Linked DNA regions of Homo sapiens: region 1 is linked to region 2. The links come from fine-mapping of genetic effects on plasma protein levels. A gene starts in region 2. The other region holds a variant in brackets. All regions are shown on one strand. Distances are between the middles of the regions. Region 1 holds the start of LOC124907740 (a long non-coding RNA gene). Region 2 holds the start of HS1BP3 (HCLS1 binding protein 3).

The links. PIP is the posterior inclusion probability: the model's chance that the variant is causal. The UK Biobank Pharma Proteomics Project read protein levels with antibody pairs (Olink). The fine-mapping took linkage between variants from a reference panel, not from the people measured, so its PIPs are less certain.
Region 1: its variant is fine-mapped to the plasma level of the HS1BP3 protein (UK Biobank, PIP above 0.99). The variant lies in the coding sequence of HS1BP3. If it changes the protein, the assay may bind it differently, which can mimic a change of level.

What each region holds. Positions count from the first base shown.
Region 1 is chr2:20,635,611-20,645,132 of GRCh38, forward strand. It overlaps HS1BP3 (HCLS1 binding protein 3), which reads right to left. Exons shown (of 7, transcript NM_022460.4): 3 at 5,363-5,570; 4 at 2,826-3,042. LOC124907740 (a long non-coding RNA gene) reads right to left here and starts at 2,819. Exons shown (of 2, transcript XR_007086243.1): 1 at 623-2,819. RefSeq lists enhancers at 134-183, 4,733-5,234, 7,071-7,200. The variant G/A (reference allele first, on the strand shown) is at 5,453.
Region 2 is chr2:20,645,935-20,655,762 of GRCh38, forward strand. HS1BP3 (HCLS1 binding protein 3) reads right to left here and starts at 5,164. Exons shown (of 7, transcript NM_022460.4): 1 at 5,098-5,164. The coding sequence starts at 5,129. LOC105373466 (a long non-coding RNA gene) reads left to right here and starts at 5,348. Exons shown (of 2, transcript XR_001739320.2): 1 at 5,348-5,418; 2 at 6,041-6,266. RefSeq lists enhancers at 4,511-4,590, 4,611-4,760, 4,845-5,582 and a silencer at 4,841-5,430.

The DNA.
Region 1 (9,522 bases), 10 kb before region 2:
ACCGTGACATTCTAAAATAGAAACTTAAATACAAAACAGGGGCGACATGGAGCAGCAATCGGGACAGACCATAGGGTGGAAAAGCAGAGTACGAAAAGGCACGTGCATTGTGCCTGCGGTTGCATGGATGCTGCTGGGACGGGGTCAGAAGAGAGCCCCAGCAGATGGAGAGAGCGGTGGTGTTGGGATGGGCCGAGGTGAGGGCTTTTTCTATCTTTAATTGCTCTCTAATGGTGTAATAACGCTCTCTTGTCCCTAATCAAAACCAGGTTTAAAAGACAAAGAAAAGCCAGGCCGGCCTGGGCTCCGGCTTTGTGCTGGCGACTCCCACCCTCCCAGCAGCCCTGCCGTGGAGCAGCCCTTCAGCAGAGCAGCAGCGCCTCGCCGCGGCCACGGCGGGGAAGGACCGAGGCTGGTTGCATGGAAATGGTGGCCGCTCCAGGAGAGCCCAGAGCTAAGCCCAGACATGGGGCAGGGCAAGCTGGGAAACGGGTGCCGCTGCATCTGCACAGGAACCAAGCGCACGGGAGGGAGAGGGGTGCACAAACAGCCTCCCGAGAAGAACAGAAAGTCCCCCACCAAAGGGCAGGTGGGTGGCACCAAGAGAGATCAACAAGCCCACCTGGGTGTCTGTGAAAGGCCGAGGTGGAAACCCAACTTCAAGGTACGGCTCTGCCACACACACAGCTCTGGAACACACACGGCTCTGGCCAAGATCCTGCTCAACTCCTTCCTCGATTTTACCATCTGTGAAAGGGGGATAATCCTGGGGCCCTGCCCACCTCCCAGGCTGATAAAGACTGGACTGGAGATGGCGTGGGGTCCTGGCTCTGCCATCTGCAGGCTGCAGGAACGTGGACGAACCACCTGACCCTGAACTTGAGTTTCCCACCACACAGAAGAGGCTGATGCCAGTGCAGGCCTCCAGGGCTCCGTTTCTTGACCTGTGCCCACAGTGGATCCTGAAAGCAGTTTGGCGAGTCATGACCTTTCCAAACGTTGAAATAGAATAGAAAATATCCCAGTACAATACACTTAGTAAGGTTTTGTATGAGTTCTGGGAACTTTTGCTTCAGTTTTATGGGATGTTTATACATGTGTGTCCTGGGTCATGGCGTACCATATAGTTTTTACTATGGGTTGTAGCAAGTAGTTTCAGAAATGCTGTCTTACAGATATAATGAGATCATGCAAGCAAATGCTAACTTAGTTCCCAGCATTTCATAAACTCTCAAAAAATTTACTTATTATTCCTGACAGAGGTGATAACGTTGATTCATCAGCACCTTGTCACACGGGTCCTTAAAAAGAAACCCCAGCAGGGGAGGGTCTTAAGCCGGCAGGATTACTCTTAGGTGCTAAGCTTTCCCAGGATTCAGGGGTGAGGGCCCCAGAGTACAGAGCTGGGGAGGGGGCTGCCCCCGCCCCCCCCGCCCCGCCAAGGGGTCCCAGGATAGCTGACACATCTCCCCTGACAATCTGCTAATGAAGTAAGTAGGAAGTTCAAGGCAGCACTTGCCAGCCACAAAGAACATTTTCCTACCCAAAAAAGGAGCCGCTCGGCTAAGTGTGTTCTTCAGCCAAAGGTTGGCACAGACCACCAAAGTCCATCTCGGTTTGGCACTACGTGTGGTTACTCAGAACAACAGAGAATGTGAGTTCAAACAAAGCCTCACCCTTACCAAAATAAAGCCCAAGAAAGGCCTGCCGCGTTGGGCCAGGCTGATAAGGAGTGACTATTACAGGCTTGTCCCCATATCACCCACTACTCTGGCTGCCTCTCCCTCAGGGCCGCTGACCCCACTCAGGGACAAGGCCAGCCACGGAGGGCCAGGAGGAGCGACTGCAGGGCACTTGCTGTGCCCAGGTGCCGCAGGACCCCAGATCTCAGGCCTGTTTCTGCTGCAGCTCCCTGAGCGCCGCGTACCCTTTCCCAGTGCAAATCCTCACCCCTGGACGCTGGTCTCATGGCCACCCTGCAGCCCACCCTCCCATAACCCTCCCCACGAAGAAGGCCTTTCCAGAGTGGGCTGTGATTTTAGGAGAGAATTCTACATGCTGATGAAGTTGAACTTGCTTCTGCCTAATTTCTACTGGGCTCTAATTCCTTTCTGCGGCAGGACCTACACTCATCTGGCGCCCGAGGGCTTTGGTAAACGGCTAAGAGACATTCGTTGTGGTAGAGAGCGGGGAGGACAGCACCCCTGGCCTGGTCTGATTCCACTGAAAGATGGGGCCATGATGGTAGCTGATTGCTAAATTTACATAACTCAGTTCATCGTCACAGGAGCCCTAAGAGGTTGATACGACCATGAGTCCATTTTCACTGAGGAAAACCGAAGAAAAGAGATTGTAAATGGCCAGAGATGTATGGCTGGTGAATGGCCCTGTGTGGAGGCAGGGCCAAGGTGAATGCTCCTGCTATGCAGATGATGCAGCCCAGAGAGCCGCAGCCACCTCTGCGAGTCCCACAGCTGGAAGGAGCACCCAGTCCTCCCACACTAGCCGGACAGGCCCGCAGCCTGCACTACTGAGCTGTCACGGAGGACTCTACCAAGCCCCAGTGCGGAGCCACAAGTGGAGGACATCCTGTGACCCGAGAAGGGAGGCGACACCTAAGCCCAGTCCCAGAGACATGCACACCACCAAGGGCACGCAGAGAGCTACTTCCCCCAACACACCAGGCCAAGGCCTCGTGGCCCAGATCCCTGCGAGGGGGCGACCTGGGATGCTCAGGGCTTTTCTCAGATTCCAGGGAAGGGGGACGTCATCTCCAGAAAGCCTGGAATACACCAAAGGGGCCCTCTCAACAACAGGAGACCAACCGCATAATGCCCAGAGGGTCCAGCGCCTCCTCCTCCTCCAAGGATTCCTCAGCATCCTCGCCCTTCAGGCTCTGGACGGGCGGACCCTCTTCTGCCACTTGGTCTTGCTCCTCAAAAAAGTCGAAAGCCTCTTCATCATTCCCTGTCTGACTGTCTGTGCCATCCAGGACAGAGGAATCTCTGCTGGTGAGCCCTGCAGCCCCTGGGGATCTGGTACCTGTGGAGGAAGACAGAAAAGAATGGACTTGGTAACCACCCCAGAGCCAGGGGAGGCATCTTGCCACACTGCACCCTCCCATGCCAGGATCTGAGGCCGAGGGCTTCCTGCAGCCTCCTGGGACCAAACTCGTCCCTCCTGGGACCTAAGCAGGATGGCGAGTCTGGGTGGATGGAAGGTGACCTCCGTTTCGGGGGCAGCCAAGTGCCTGCTGCAGCCCCCCAAGGGCTGACGGGCACCAAGGAAGCCTGGAGTGGAGTGGTCACAAGTGGGAGCTTCAGAGCAAGACAGGGGCAGCGGTTCCTGAACCCAAGGCCCAGAGCCTGTGTGCGCCGCAGGGATGGCTGCACCCTCCTCCCGGGTGAGCGGTGGGATACAACAGCCAGGGCACAGGGTGATTCAAAAAGAACCAGTACAGCCAGAACCATTTACAGTTGGAGGCACGGCAAGGAACTCTGCAGACAGAGACCTGCCCCGAGAGTCTGGGCACCTGGACTGTGGACTGGATGGGTGCCCAGGGTAAGCATGTGGAAGATTCCAGAACAAACGGTAATCACTCCATTACAAACTGGCTTAGATGAGCGCTTCTTGAAGTGTGGTCTTCAGACAGAGAATGCCCCCTGTGTGACCACAATGAGGTAAGTAGAGAAAGGGAGAGCAAGCATCCAGAAACTTCATAGCATGCTGCCATCATCACAATACCCAAGTGTGCTTTTGTATTTGTGAAAGTATCCATCTGTGACAGGCTGGGAATAAAAGAGCTAGCCCTTGCCACAGATAGTTTGAGAAGCGTGGGCTCAGACTATTTGTTCATTTCTATCCAAGTGCTTACTGGGTAGTTTAAAACAACTGACTTTTAATAAAATCACCTTGTAGGTAAAGAACTTAGAGAGTGTCTGGCATACAGGATGCACTGAGTGATAATGACGATATCGTATTATGTGATGCTCTGTTATTTTACTTGGACAAATGTGAAAAGCCATTCAAAATCTCCCAAACCTTCAATTTCATGTCATAAGCATCTTACATTTAAACATCACAAAAGCCCTATGAGAGAGATCCCTACTGTACATCCATCTTGCAGATGAGCAAAGTGAGGCATAGAGCAGCTTGTGTTTCTATCCTGCCTCTCCACCAGAGAGGGGCTGGGACATCCTGAGCATCTCTTCCAGCGATGGCTGAGCTGGAACCTCTTGGCACAGTCTACCCAGCCCCAGAGACAGGCAAGGAAGGAAGGGTTGTGACCTTGGAACAACAAGGGCAGAAGAGAACCCAGACCCATGTGAGGGGCCCAACATGGCCACAGGACACCGGGGCTGTGCAGCTTGTCCAGTCCTAGGCCTGCGCATTCACCAGTTTTGCTTCTCTTCCCCACCTTTCACTTTAAATAATTTGTTTTATTTACGGTCAACTTTCTTTTGAAAACTTCCCTTCTGTCTTGTGGAACTAGGAGATCCACAGTAGCTGGGAAGGAGTTAAGCAGACGGATGTAAAGAGGGGAGAAGGGGTGGGAGTCCGGCACCAGCAGTGGTGAGAACCTGCCTTGTCCTGGGGGCATCTGTGAGACCAGGGCCTGCCCCACGGGGGTTCTGGGTTGACAGGACTAACCGAGGAGTGGGGTAAAATTGTAGCCACTATTTACTGTGGTTGTTTCTGTTCTAAGGACTTTGCATGTGTTAGCTCTGTAAATTCTCATAACGGCCTATCAGCCAGGCTACTCCCACCTTACAGATGAGAAAACTGAGGAGAGAAGACAGGGCCAGGACACCCATGGGAAGGGCTTGACGTCTCCACCACTGGGGGCAGGGGTGCTGGATCAATTCCTCAGCCCGGAGCTGTCCCCATGACCCTCTCTGTGGGGGCACAGGTGAGAAGCACATGTCCCCAGGGGCAGGTCACCAGCCAGGCTGTGAGAACACAGCTTTCCCGGGATACTGCAGGTCCCTAGGGCTGGTTGGAGGAGGCAGAGGGGAGTGTGGGGTGTGTGTCAGGGGGTTGTATGTGGTGCATGGTCAGTCGGGGGGTGTCGGGCAAGCTCTAGGAATGGGGCTGGCCAGGAAGGCCATGGATGGGGTCACACTATGGAGAATGCCTGCTGTGTGAGCCCCCACCTGACAGCCAGACGTTCAGTCCCTCAAGGGTAGGCCTCCTTCTGCCCACCATCCAGCCAAGGATGTCAGCGAGGCCACCTGCCTCACCAGCCTGGCTGAAGCCTCCAGGCTGCAGAGGCAGCTGTGGACATGCTCCCACTGGGGCACGGCAGCGGGGCCTAGTTCTGGGCCGGGGAGACCTGAGGGACATGGGGCAGAGCCTTGGGTACCTAAGAACTCTAGCAGCTCTGGGCTGCCTGCCAACTCGGCATCCTTGGAGACACAGCGCAGGATCTCATTGAACACGGCTCTCCTCTCCC[G/A]GATGTCAGACTCCCCAACAAACAGGACCTTCCTGGGTAGTGGGGGGAGGCTGGCTGCTGCATAACGACTGCTCAGTTTCTGGTAAAACTCCTCAATCTCGCTGTACTTTTTGGAGACCTGGAATGAGAGGAGCATGTGGTTTCCTGAGTGAAGAGTGGCAGGCAGTGCTCCTTTCTCACCCCGACCAGGGGTTCCCAAGGCCCAGCAGCCAAAGGAAGTGTGCCAGGTACGCCCGCCTGCTGCCCCTCTGCCTGTCTCCCAGCCTCAGGCTCCAGTCCTTAACACGCCTGGCCGATAGCAGATTCAATAAAAACATCTTAGTGGCCCAGAGGAAAGATGCAATAACGGTGCCATTCTGGACACTGTCACAGGTCCAGTTAACAAGATTTGATACAGGGACCCCTGCCCAGCCTGCACGTGATCAGGGCCACTGTGTTCATTCCCAGCTTTCTGCATATCAGGAGGGTGATCTCACCGGCTGGCAGGTCATCTTCCTGCAACACCGTGAATCATCTGTTCTCAGCACCAACCTCATTCTCCCGTGAACCAGTGTGGCCTTCGGCGGGCCAGCCAATGCAAGCAGTGGAGACAGATATTTCCAAGGCTTGTTCTCTGCCCTGCGTCAGGCAGGACCTCTCTGCACGCAGGCACCCGAGTCAAGCAGGCCAGGACTCTTGCTGTCATCAGAAGGCAGCCTTGAGCACCATCTGACTCAGAGAGGGCAGCACTCAGCTTCCCGTGGGGCCAGCGGCTGACTCCCGCTGCCTCCTTGGCCTCTCCCCACAGCTCCTGGGCAGCTAAGCCTTCACCCCTTCACTCACGGAGCTCTTGCTGCATGTTCACTCTGTACAGAGACACCCCAGCAGGCTCTCAGTCTCACAGTGGTTTCAGTGCCATCGCCGTGTCTGTAACCATGTGGGTGCTCAGCGAAGTCACCTGCTGTATACACACACCATCGGCCTGGCACCTACCCTCACTCCTAGCTCCTCTATCACCTGCTGTATGCACACACCATCATCCTGGCACCTACCCTCACTCCTCGCTCCTCTGTGCTTTCCCCATAGACTGGGCCTGTCTCCCCCGACTGAAGTGTGGGTCACTCACTCTTATGCTCCCAGGCCCGGACTGTGCCCACAGTGTGCCACTGGAGTGCTGGCGTGCAGGGGCTGCGGGCATCTGACGCCCTCGGGCTCGGGGAGATCCCTTGGTGCAGGGTGTGTCTGGAACACACATCCTTGGCTCCAGCAACACCACCCAGAATGCCCAGCCTGTGAAGGGTCAAGATACCAGGAGGCAGCTGGGGGGATTTCAGAACCTCCAGTGGGGAGTCACCTGGGACAGGTGCTGCTTGCAGTTGTCAGCACAAGAGCCTGGCTCCAGACTTTCCTGAAAACAGCCCTCAGGGAAAGGCACACGGACCCCTTCCCAGAGCGATTGCTAACACAGGCTCCGACAGCAGCTGTGACTCCAGCCCGGCCCGCAGAGCAGGCCACGGTGGGGGCCGGGCGCCCCCTGCTGGCCCGACTGCTCCCCTCAGGCTCAGACCACAGACCCAGCATATCCAGGCTCGGGGAACCTCCATCTCCAGGGCACTGGCATCGTGAGTACTCCGGAGCTGTAGGCCTGGGCTCCCACCCCACCCAGGGCCCACGTCCATCAGGGGTTCAGGCAGGGCTTCTTGGGTGGGCATCTGCACCAGCAACAAGAGGAGGCCAAGTAAGAGACCCTGAGCAGAGGAAGCTCAAGGTTGAGAACTCACATTTATCTGGTGCCCCCGTGTGCCAGGCACTGCTGAGCACGGGGCAGACAGCCCTGTAACGTTAGTAAGCTTGTGGGTGTCTGCACTGCTAGCACATCCAAGAGCCTGCACAACCTCCACTGCGGTGCCCCCTCCTGCGGCTGTTTTACTCCATGGTCAGCAAATCAGTACACGTTTATATTAAAACACATATGCCCTTTTAAGTAGATACAAAATGCTCATTAATTCTTTGAGTTAATTCATGAAACATCAAAGAGACTTCAGGCTTGGGGGTATGTAACTTTAGGCTCCATCCTGAGATCCCATGGGGAGTAAAGGAGTTCTTTGCCCTCGCAAGTACTTTCAAATGTCTGACAAGCCCCTGCACGCACACACTCCACGAGGAGTGGGCGTCACTGCCTAGGAAAAAGTGGCACTAGTGTGATTCATGGAGGTGTTAAAACACCCTCATGTACACCTTGCATGTAAGGCCGGCCCTCTGCACAGAACCAAGTGGGCTGGGCGGCTGAAGCCCAAGCTTCCCAGAATGCTCCCTCCTTCATGCCCCGCAACATCAAGCTCAAATACTCTCCTCTTCTGCTCCTGTCTCTGAAAATGTGGGTGCATTGAGCTCCAACCTGGATCAAGTCAAATTACCAGGAGCTGCAAAGCACCCTGTAAAGCAGATTCACTCTCAGAGCAATGCAGGCCCAGAATCACCCCTGACATCACACGTTGCTTCTCACCAAGAGTCGGCCACAGGAGCAATCAAATGAAAAACAGCATTGCTATTCTAGACGCTTCTCATGACGTTGTTGAATGTCCCTTAAAATTGTGTGGCTGGGCGTGGGGGTTCACACCTGTAATCCCAGCACTTTGGGAGGCTGAGGCAGGAGGATTGCTTAAGCCCAGCTTGAGGAGTTTGAGACCAGCCTGGACAACATAACAAGACACTATGTCTACCAAAAAAATTAAAAAAGAAAAAGCTGGGCATGGTGGTGTGTGCCTGTAGTCCTAGATACTTAGGAGGCTGAGGCAGGAGGATTGCTTGAGCCCAGGAGTTCCAGGCTGCACTGAGCTATGATCACACTACTGCACTCCAGTCTGGGGAACAGAGGGAGATCCTATCTCTTAAAAAAAGGAAACATTTGTGCTGTAAATTTCTCTTAAAATTTAGTGTCTCTTTCAACAGGTCACCAGAAAGATGCAACTCATCGTTTCCCTTTTTATCTTGGTTGCCAGGAGACTCCAAGCTAGCCCCGTGTCACTCCCTGCTGTACTTCGGGGTCTAGTTCATTTCACCTTTGTCCTAATAATCCTGGACCTGTGTCTCTTGGTCTCCAGCTGCAGGTCCTTTTCACAAGAGGCCAAATGGTAAATAATAAGCCAATGAGTGTGTGATCTCAACCCTCTTGAAATTCTCTCCTCCCTTAGCTCCTCTGACTCCGTAGATACCCACCCAGTTCTCTCCTCTCTGCCTCAACTGCAGACTCCTCCTTCTCCCCAAGAGTCCCTGAACCCCTGGCATCCTCAGGATTTCCTCCTCAGCCCTTCTCTCTGCCTTCCACTTCTGTTCTCTGGGCAACTTGATCCACTCCCAGATTTTTAATATCACCTCCAAGTTGATGACTCCCAAGCCTACATCTCAGGCCTGAGCTCGTCCCGAGCTCCAGCCTCATGTATCCATCCACAGGGCAGACACTTCACACTCCACATGCCCCCTAGGTCTGCTCCTCCATCATATTCTTTATTTCAGTTGGTGGAAACAGTCAGCAAATGTGGTGCATGTTACCCAGTAAACATTTTCAACTCTCCCTTTCCCTTCCATACCAAGTGCAACTGGCCTGCTCCAAGCCCTTGATTTGGGAATGACCATATTGGCCATGTATCTGGGCTCCCTGACACCTGTTTTGTTCCTTCCAATCCAACTCCATGCTCTCAGCAGATTGGCTGGTTAAAGGCAAAAGGGTCCACGTCACTCCCCTGCTTAAAACTCTCCTTGGCTGCAGGTTAAGTCCAGGCTCCCGCAGACTCTCCACAATCTGGATCCTGCCTGTCACTCACCTTCATCTTCCCCGCTTCCTCCCAGGACCACACTCAACTGTGCAGAGTTCCCACTCAATGTCCTATTTCCAACCTCCGTGCCTTTGCTTAGGATGTGTTGTCTGCCCGGGACACCCTTCTCACCTCTCCTGCTGAGCCCCATCTGTTCCTCAAAACACAGCTCAGCCACCGCCTCTTCCAAGAAGTTTCCCCAGGGTCAGTTAGGTGCCCCTTCTCTATACCCCCAGAGCCCCCCAGGTGCTCCTGTCCCCATCTGTATCTGTCTCT
Region 2 (9,828 bases):
AGGGCTGCTACAGGCCCCCTGGGGGGGACACGGGACGAGCACTGGAGGCAGGACCCTTGTGACCCACCGTGGCCCAGAGAGGCACTGATAGGCCCGTCCCTCATCTGGGCAGTCGATGCTGCCCCTCGAGGTGTAGAGAGGATGCATCGGCAAAACATCACCGCTCTTGGAGATTTGTAAAATGCAATTCGAATATAATGAATTGTATGATGAGCAAAGAAGTGATGAGATGTTTTTCTTGAAGTGGAAAAAGTTATTAAATACATCCCTCATCCTACATAAGGTGAGACACAGACCTGTGCAGACTAACATCCCTCACGCAAACACCTCTGGCAGGACACGTGGGGCACCCTCTGAGCAGCTCTGACCATCGAGGTGAGACCTCCTGTGTGCTGGGCAGGACCCTGAAAACACGGGAGGAGCTTCTGGAGCTTAACCTGTGTCTGGGGCAAGGCCCTTCCCTCTCTGGAATTATACCCCAATCCATCAAATCCCCCTGCCCCAGCACTCCTCCCACACGGACCCCTCACATCCCACGCTAGGCCACGCTGTCACCAGCACAACGCTGCTGTCACCAACTGGTGAGGCCTACAGTGATGCGTCTCCTATGCCATGTATGACACCCAATGACTGAGTGCTGTACACACAAGGAATATCCTCCCGCGGCGTAGGGCACCCCAGGCAACCTGCCTTCAGGTGGTGAAAAGTGCAGCAAGGGCCGAATGGGCACTGGGAGGTGCACACGCACAGCCAGCCCTCTGCCAACGGCACCGAGTTCACGCAGTGTGCACGCGCGGCCTGGTGTCACCCACGGTGTCACTGCCACCAGTGTGGAGGAGGAAGGTGAGGCTGGATGCTGAGGGGAGACGCGCTGGGCTCTAGGGATGCACCTGTGTGAAGTCACTTCCGCCTCCTGCAACCCTGCGAAGGAGCTCTGCTACCCAGACCCACTTAAAATACAGGGAAACAGACCCCTAAAGGGAAAGTGCCTGCCCAGGTCTCACCCGGCATGAGGTGGAGCTGCGTTCAATCCCAGGCAGCTGCTCCAGAGCCCAGGTGGCCTCTTATGGGGCAGGCATGAGAAAGAAGCCAGGCATCATTTCTTTAGGATCATGATGAAAACGAGGCACAGGGGGGTGAAAGTGACAAGAAGGGCAGTGCCTGAGCTGCGGGGAGGTCCTCTCAGGGGTGGGAAAGGGATGGAGCAGACCCAGATGGGCACCTCCCACGATCCAGCTCCCTCACAGCACCCCACATCCAATGGTTCTCTGACCACGCCAGAACCCACAATCCATAACCCCACCCCTTTTCCAGGGTCCCATTCCATTGCTGGAATCCCTCTGCCTTAGGCCCAGCTCCCCTGACTTCTTACCCAGAGCTGAGCTGGCCTGGTCAAAGCCCACTTCTCCAGTTCTCTGCTTCCTTCACCCTGTGCCCAAGTGGCTCAACGTGACTGGGGACAGACATGGTGTAAACATGCAGCCTGGTCCCATTGAAATTCATGGCTGCAGACTTGAAGGCACAGCACCACACCAGGCTTGGCAACCCTACCTTGCCCTAGATGTGGGGTTCTCAAAGTGTGGTCCCTGGATCAGGATCAGCATCGCCTGGGAACTTGTAAGAAAGGCATGTTCGGGCCTAGGGTGGCCAGCCATCTTGTTTTCTTAGTAAGCCCTCCGACGAGTCTGATGCACCTGGGCCTACTCCATCACCCTCCCACTTCCCTGAACCCATAGGAAAACTTTCTCTACAGGGTCAGATAGCAAATATTTCAGGCTGTGTAGGGTATCTGGTCTCTGCTGCAGCTGCTACGGAGAGTACATAAACAAATGGGGGTGTGGTGGGCAGGATGTGCCCTAGACCAAGCTTCTCCAACTGTAATGTGCGTGCAACCCCCTGGGGATCCTGTTAATATGCAGATTCTGGTTCTGCAGGCCCCGGGGTGTGCCCTCACCATCTCTAGCAAATTCCCAAGTGATGTGGACACTGCTGTGTACTGCTCCAGAGACCATCGGAGAACATCCTAGGCTTCGCTGTCACATCTGCCCATCAGCCTGCAGCTGCTCCCTGATAGCTGCCCTCTCCTGGGACTGTAGACAAACTGGCTGGCTGCTCCTAAGGCCAACCTTCTACCAGGGCAGCGGCTCCGAGGCCCTCCCACCTACTGAAGGACATAGCTGCTGCAGCTCACCCCTCTTTTTCGCACCATCGATTTTCCTTCCTTACTGGCCCACGCTTATTAGCATGCAACCATGCTCTGACCACTCATGTAACAAAAGCTGTGCTTTGACCCGACATTCCCCTTGCTCCGTTTCCCTCCTGCCCTTTCCAGCAGAACTCCTCAACAGAGGGCCCCATATTCATGGGTTCCTCTCCTCCTGTTTGATCTTGAACCCTTTCCAGCCAGACTTTGGTCCTCATCATGCAACAAACTGCCCACGCCCAGGTCATCTGCGACCTCCATGTGGTTAAATCCAAAGGTGAATCCTCATTTCTCCTCTGGTCTGACTTGTCAGCAGCAGTGGGCACAGTCAGCCACTCCCCTCCTTCAAGCTCTGCCTTCACTGGTGGCTGGAGCACCCCCTCACTCTTGGTTCTTCTCTGCCCACCCTGGCCACTCTTGCTCAAACAGGAGGAGAGGAACTGCTTTGGATGGTTCCCCTTGATAGCATCCAGAGCACCCTCCTTCTTCCTCTCACTGTACCCCTCCCCAGGTGATCTCATCCAGGCTCCAGGCTTTAAATACCATTTCCGAGCCAATGGCTCCCCAACTCCCATCTTTAGCTCACTCTCCCCTCACAGCCAGCCTCCTTCCAGCTGCAGCTGCCTGACATCCCCACTGGGCTGTCAACGAGCTTCTCAAAACTCACCTGTCTACACAAATGCTGCTTCTACCTCTCCCCAAGCCTGCTAAAGGGCAGCCTCATTCTTCCAGCAGCTTAGGCTGAGAGACTTGCCGTTAGTCTTAACTTCTCTTCTTGTTCTCACACCCCATATCCAAGCATCAGCAAACCTGAAAGCTCAATCTTCAAAATATATCGAGAACCCAAACATTTCTCACCCTCACGGCCGCCATCACCCCGGGCCAAGCCACCACCGGCTCTACATGGAAACCTACAAGCCTGTCCTGAATGCTCAGCTCGGCCACTGCCCATGCTCAGCATAGCAGCCAAAGGATCTCTATAAACCAGAAGTTGGGCCCTATTGCACTTGAAATTAAATCTGATGGCCCCTCCACAGCCTTCTCGGCCTTTCCTGATCATCCTTCACTCCCAAGCTTGCCTCTTCACCGCATCACCTAACACTCTCCCTGGGCTCACTCCACTCCAGCATACCAGCCTCGGGACCCTGGCTCCTGCTGTCCTGTCCTCCCAGTACACACTTTTCCAAGATTTCTTTTTCATGGCTCTCTCCCTCATGGAGCTTGTCCGGGATCTGTCCAGGCGCCACTCCATCAGAAAGATGCCTCTTTACCACACCATAGAAAACAGCATGCATGCCTCCTACCACTCTGTTGCCCCCACTGTTTTGTTTTCCTTCATAGCATGTATCATCCCTGACATGTCGTAGATTTGCCCACTGGGCCTGTGCCCTCATTAAAGCTCTACGAGAGGGACTTGTTTGTCTCCTAGAACTAGGGCCAGTACCCGGTACAGAGAAGGCTCTCGATAAACACCTTCTGGCTGAATTCAAGCTTGAGTGCATGTGGCAATGACATGTGGGAGGAGATCGGGCTGGAAAGAGGAGCTGGGGTGCGACTGGGAAGGGCCGGCCTTGCTGCTGGGCTAAGGCGTTTGGACTCACCCTGCAGGCAAGATCCTTGGGTGTGCTGGTGCCCTCAGCAAGAAATGAGCCTGACTCATGTGGCCTTACCACCGCCAGCGCCCCCACATCTGTTAACAAGCCACGTCCAGGCTGTGCAGCGGGGCAGGGAGGGAAGCCACCCACCCCATCCCAAGCACCCAGCACCAAAGTCACACCCCATCCATCTGCACATGGCTGAGGGGCATATACTACTGACGTTGCTCATGCCTGCCAATCTGAAACCTCCAATTCACAGAAAAGGAAACTGAGGCTTGGTGAGAGGAGGTGACGTAAGTGGCAGTAGGGAAACCTCTTCTGCCCATGAAGATACAACTGTAACCACACTTGATCATGAAAGACCAAGCAGCCTCCGACATCAGGGTTTACAAAAGGAATCATACCTTTCTAGACCTGAAGTCACGGGGAATTCCTGATTACAACTGGAAGATCAACAGTTGGCTGGGTAACACGTTCATTTATGTCATAAATTGGCATCTTAGCCTAAGACTTTGTGTAGGGAGAGCAAGGGTGAAGTGTATGAAAATATTTGAAGTAAATCACTTTACAGCGTTTTAAAGGCGGAAAGAAGTAAAAGCACGTGCCTCCCAGCCTTGCCAGGATCCACCTTGGGCTGGGTCCTCCAGGTCTCGATCAGGGCCGACCCATTCTGCATCCTCCGCCTGGACCCCTCCAAGGCTTTTGCTGTAACTTGCGCTCTCCTGAGCTGCCTCGCAAGCAGCAACGACCTCTCCCTGGTCTCTCATCAAACTCATCCTCCCAGAAACCGGGTTCCTGCCCTGTACTGTGTTCCCATGGCAACCTGAGCTTACTACCCGCTGCTGGCATCACCCCCTCTCCGCTGCAGCCCCCTGCAGGGCGAGCTTGTCTGATTCGCCTCTGTCCCCAGTGCCCAGCACCGGGCCTGGGACTCAGGGAGCTCTGAAAGGATGGGGAACTAGATTTTCGGGCTCAAAAGAGAAGAACCCAAGGCGGTAGGAAAGGAGAGCAGAGTCCCCACTGCGCCCGCCTGCACTGAACCAGTCAGTCCCAGGGCTCCCGCTGTCCTTGGCTAGTTCTCTACCCTCCAGAGGGCCTCGGTTTCCTCATCTGTAAATCGGGGTCGCCACCTCTCCTGCAGGGCGGTGCAGGGGCCCAGCCCGGATAAGCCACCGAGGGCGCTGGGGAGACCTGCACCAGGTCCCTGGCCTAGGAGGCGGCGGCCTCCCCCCGCCTCTCCGCCCGGGCGCCCCGGACTGCGAGCTGTGCGGTGTGGGGCGCGGGGGTCTGGCTCACCTGGAGGTGACGAGCACCGCCGGGGACTGCATGACGGCGGCGGGGACTCCGGGCGGGGCGCGCAGTCACGGGACCCGGCAGTGCCCGCGTCACCGCGTCCCCGCCCTGCCTCCCGCTGCCCTGGCCTGCCCCCTGGTGGCAGCGGCCGCGCAGTTCGCGCCTGTGGCCAGAGGCGGGGCGGAAGCGCGGCTGGGCGGGTCCCGCACGGTCGCCGTCGGCCTGCGCTGCTCGGAGCTTCCGGAGCACCCAGGCTGAGCCGCGCCCGCCGCAACCACCTAGAAGAAGCCCAGCCTGGCCCTGGCACACGGTGAACCTTAATCGGTGTGTCTGTTTTGCGCTAAAGTTTAGCCGTTAGAGAGACGGGACTCTGCTGTTTCCGCCGCCAGTCCCCATTACAAAACCACTCCCCCTCTGCCCCAAGACCATTTCATTCAACCGATCGGTCAACAAATATTTACCAAGCTGGGGCTCTGTCCAGGCTTCGTGGGGTCTTCTTCAAGCTGCACAGTGAACGCCACGCAGCAGCCCAGTCCCCTTGAGCTTGCTGCCTCCAGCTAGCTCGCCTATCTGGTTCCTACTGCCTGCCCGCTCCATAAATGGCAGGCACTCTCCCGACAGGGGATCTTTAGAGAGGCAGCCTCTGCTGCTTGGCAGAGCCCTGGTGGAGGCCTCCCGGGGCCGGGCCTGCCTGGGATGGCTGCACTTGGGTCCCCAGCTGGAGCAGGGCAACGGGGTCCAGGAGCCAGTTCCCCTCAGAAGGGGAACGTACAGACATGCAGACCCTAACAGACCCACTCATTTTAGATTCACCTCTCCATGGGGTGAGGAACAGAGAGATCGTATCACCTGCCAACGTAGCCCAGGGAAAGAAAAGCTGAGTCTGCAAACAGGGCCAGCAGAAGGTGCAAACTGCTGCCCCTGTTCTGTTACTCCCTCCACCCAGAGCCCCAGTGACAAAAAGAAAGAGAAGCTGGGCTTAACTATACCAGAATTCACGGCAGGGCGATGTCAGCCATGTTTCCTGAGCCTATCAACCACCGCCACCAGCATCACCAACAATATCTACCAGTTTTTACAGATTTTAGTGAAGAAATCCTACAGTAAAAGATTTTGAAAAATGACTTTCCCCAATGTATCTCTTGAATAAATACGGACATTGATATGCCTTATTATTTGTCTCAGATTTGTTTATAGGCAAGATGAGCAATCATGAATGAAGTATGACAATGAATGAAAGTTCTGAGGGAGACCCTTGAAGGCTGCAGTGAAGAGCTGGGATGATGGCGGGAACCCCTGTCTGCTCTGCTGCTCATCGGCCTGTCCGTCTGCAGGGCCGTGTTCATGGCTGCAAATGGTCCTCCGTGTTTTGTTTAAATTGGCATGCCCTACTTTAGAGAAAGGGAGTTCAGGGTCTGGACAGAAAGCAGTATAGGCTTCAGCATTCCAGGAGTCTGAGTGTAGTGCCAGGCAGTCGAGCAGTCACCATTGCACTCACATTTATCCAACAGACAGAAACACAGTGAATAAGACACTTTAGATGCCTTCAGTGGACTTCTTTGCCCTCCTACATGGGGAGTGGGTGGGGGTCTGGAAAGGCTTTCTAAAGGAGCTGAAGTCCAAGGGAAAACCTGAAGAAATATGGATAGAATAGATTAGAAGGAATGTCACGTGCAAAGCCCTAGCGACAGGATAGGAACACCAGGGAACAGGGGGAAGAGGCCAGCAGGAGCCAGGGTGTGGACAGCCTAGTGCACCAAGGCCAGGGCTTTGCCTGATCCTGAGGCCAACACAGCGCCATCAGAGGGTCAGGGACATAGGAGTGGCTGGGCCAGCTAGGGCGTGGGCAGGGTTTTGGAGCATGTTGAAGGTATGAAGATGAGCTGGACTGCAGAACAATCCAGACAAGAGACAATGGTCCCATGAACTAGGGTGATGGCCACCCAGGTGGAGAAGAGGGGACGGGTAAGAGGGCCTTAGGAGAAGGAGTTGGTCAAGACTTGGGAATCCAATGGGTGTGGGCGGGAAGAGATAAGATACCACTATGGTTTGGCTCTTGTGAGTGGCTGGACATTGGTATCATTCTCTGTGGCAGGGCACCTGGAGAAGGAGCATATTTTTGGTAGGATGATGGGTTCTGTTTCAGACAGGCAGTGTTTGAAGGGCTGGACCTATTGATGCGATTGGGTTTATGGCCCTGGGCCTCAGGAAGCCGACCTGGGCTGGAGACTGACATAGGAGTCATGGGTAAAAAGGAGGCTGTTGAGCCTGAGAGTTGGGGTGAGCCCACCAAGGATGGTCTACAATCCAGAGATATGCAGCGGTGTTGGGGGGCTGCAGAGAAGGGGACTCTCCATCATTGTGGGAGCTGGTAGCATGTCTGTCACCAATGCCTTGTAAGCAAATGAGAGGGCCTCACCTGTGCCCCTGGGGTTGTGAAGTGTGCACCTCAGGAAGACTCGGCCCACCTGTCAAGAATGCAACTGGTTTCCCATGAAAGAACGACCCCATTCCCAACAGCAATCCCATTTTCTGCCTCTGTGGGTCCCACGTGCCCCTCTATGGCTCCAGCGCGTAATTGTATACAATGCATGGAATGTGGGATCTAAATCTGATATTTTCTGCTTCCTGTTTAATTCAAGGAGCCCCTTCCATGGCTGAAGCTGCGGTAACACAAACCACATTGCAAAGGATTTTCTATTTCTCTCTTTCTCACTGCCCTGGGAGGAACACTCCAGGCCTCAGTTTCCACCCAGGAAGTCACTGGGCCTCAGGACACTGTGGTCACTGAGAGACACCCGCAGCCTGCAGGGGGTGCTCTGAACTCTGGCTGAGCCATGCACCAACGTTTCCCATGGTGGCTCGGGTCTTCTGGGACCTTATAATTTGTCTCTGTTCCCTAATGTGATACTTTAGAGCTCCAGGGTCTGGGCACATCCACATGGAGCAGGGCCACCACCTTGCTTGTCACTCAGCAAACACTCATAGGTACAGCTCCAGGCCTGTTATCTCCCCAGGCCTGGGGGCTACAGAGCCTTATCCTGTGGGGCTCACAGCCCACTGCAGGGGCTCACAGGCCACTCTAGGACAGCTGGAGATTTCAACAAGGATGCACGCCTAGGGTGCTATGGTGCACAGAGGAGGGCACATAACTAACTCAGCCTAGGGTTGGGCATACAAAGAATTCTGCCAGGAGGAGGTGATGGCAGACCTGGGTTGTAAAAAGTAGGTATTATTTTTTTGAGACTTGATTTTCTCACTGGTGAAATGCACGTAACAGAAACCTTTAAATCATAACATTGCTTGAATTACATGAGGTAAAATGAGACTGAAACAAGATGAAATGTATGGCAGGCATTGGTGATGAGCTAACCGGAAGCCATTCACAACCCCCTTCTTCCTGGTTTTTATTACCATAGAGGCTGGAGAAGTAAAACACATGTCCCATTTCAGTTACAAGGGGCCATGTGACATAACTGACCACATATACTTAAGTCCCTGTGGAGGATTTATCTTGCTAGGAGAAAACTCTTCGCTCCTTCCTTGTCTTCTACCTGGGAAGGGGATACAGTGTTGGAGACACAGCAGCCATCATGGGAGCAGGAGGCACAGACATGAGTTTGGAGTCTACCATGTTAGGGATGAACAAGCCTGGGGAGCTGATGGCATATGAGCTTGCATACACGCCCTGGACTTTTTCTACAAAGTTCTCCTTGCATAAATGCCTAAATCACTCTAAGTGGGGGTTTTCTGCAGTGGATTTCCTGTTGGTGTAGTTGTAAAGTACTTACATAATGCCTGACATAAAAACTGCTCCATAGGGGATGCAGGGATGACTGAGGAGGAGGAAGAAAAGAGGTAAAATGTGTACTAGGAAGGCAGCTTGTCTTTTTTTTTTTTTTTTTTTTTTTTTGAGACAGGGTCTCATTCTGTCGCAGTGGCATGATCACAGCTCACTGTAGCCTCAACCTCCTTGGGCTTAGGTGATCCTCCCACCTCAGCCTCCCAAGTAGCTGGGATCACAGGTGTGTGCCACCATGCCCAGCTAATTTTTGTGTTTTTTGTAGAGACAGGGTTTCCCTATGTTGCCCAGACTGGCCTTGAACTCCTGGGCTCGAGCAATCTGCCCTGCTGAGCCTCCCAAAGTGCTAGGATTACAGGTGTGAGCCACCATGCTCAGCCTAGTACGTCTTGATAGAACCAGAGCGTATCTGAGGAGCTGGTGAGAAGAATATGTGGAAGGATTGCTGGGAGAGGAGGCAGCAGAGGGCAAGAGGAGCCTGTGTTCCCGCAGCATAGAGGGCCTTGTGCGCTATGCAAAGGAGCTCACATCTTATCCTGAAGAAGGAGGGAGTGGGCTCACAGAACAAAGGGAAAAGAGTGTTTCAGGAAGAGACTGGGGTGTGATCAGCAATGCCAAACACTGCTGAACATCCAGGAAGATAAGGAGGTGTTCAAGAAAAACAAACAAAAAAACCCCACAGAACTGAACAGTAGTTAAAGTGGTGAAAGCAGATTTTATTTGGGACTACTGCAATAGGGGTAAGAGACCCCAGTATAGAACTAGGCTAAATTCCGAATGCAGCATGAGAAAGTAGGAATTTATAGCCAAGGAACAGGGTGGGAGTGGTGGCTGGAACATTACTAAGACGAGTATGGGGGGACTCTGGCTATGCCGACCTAACAGGATTCTTGCTGAAGATGGGCCAGGATGGTCAGACATCACCTGGGGAT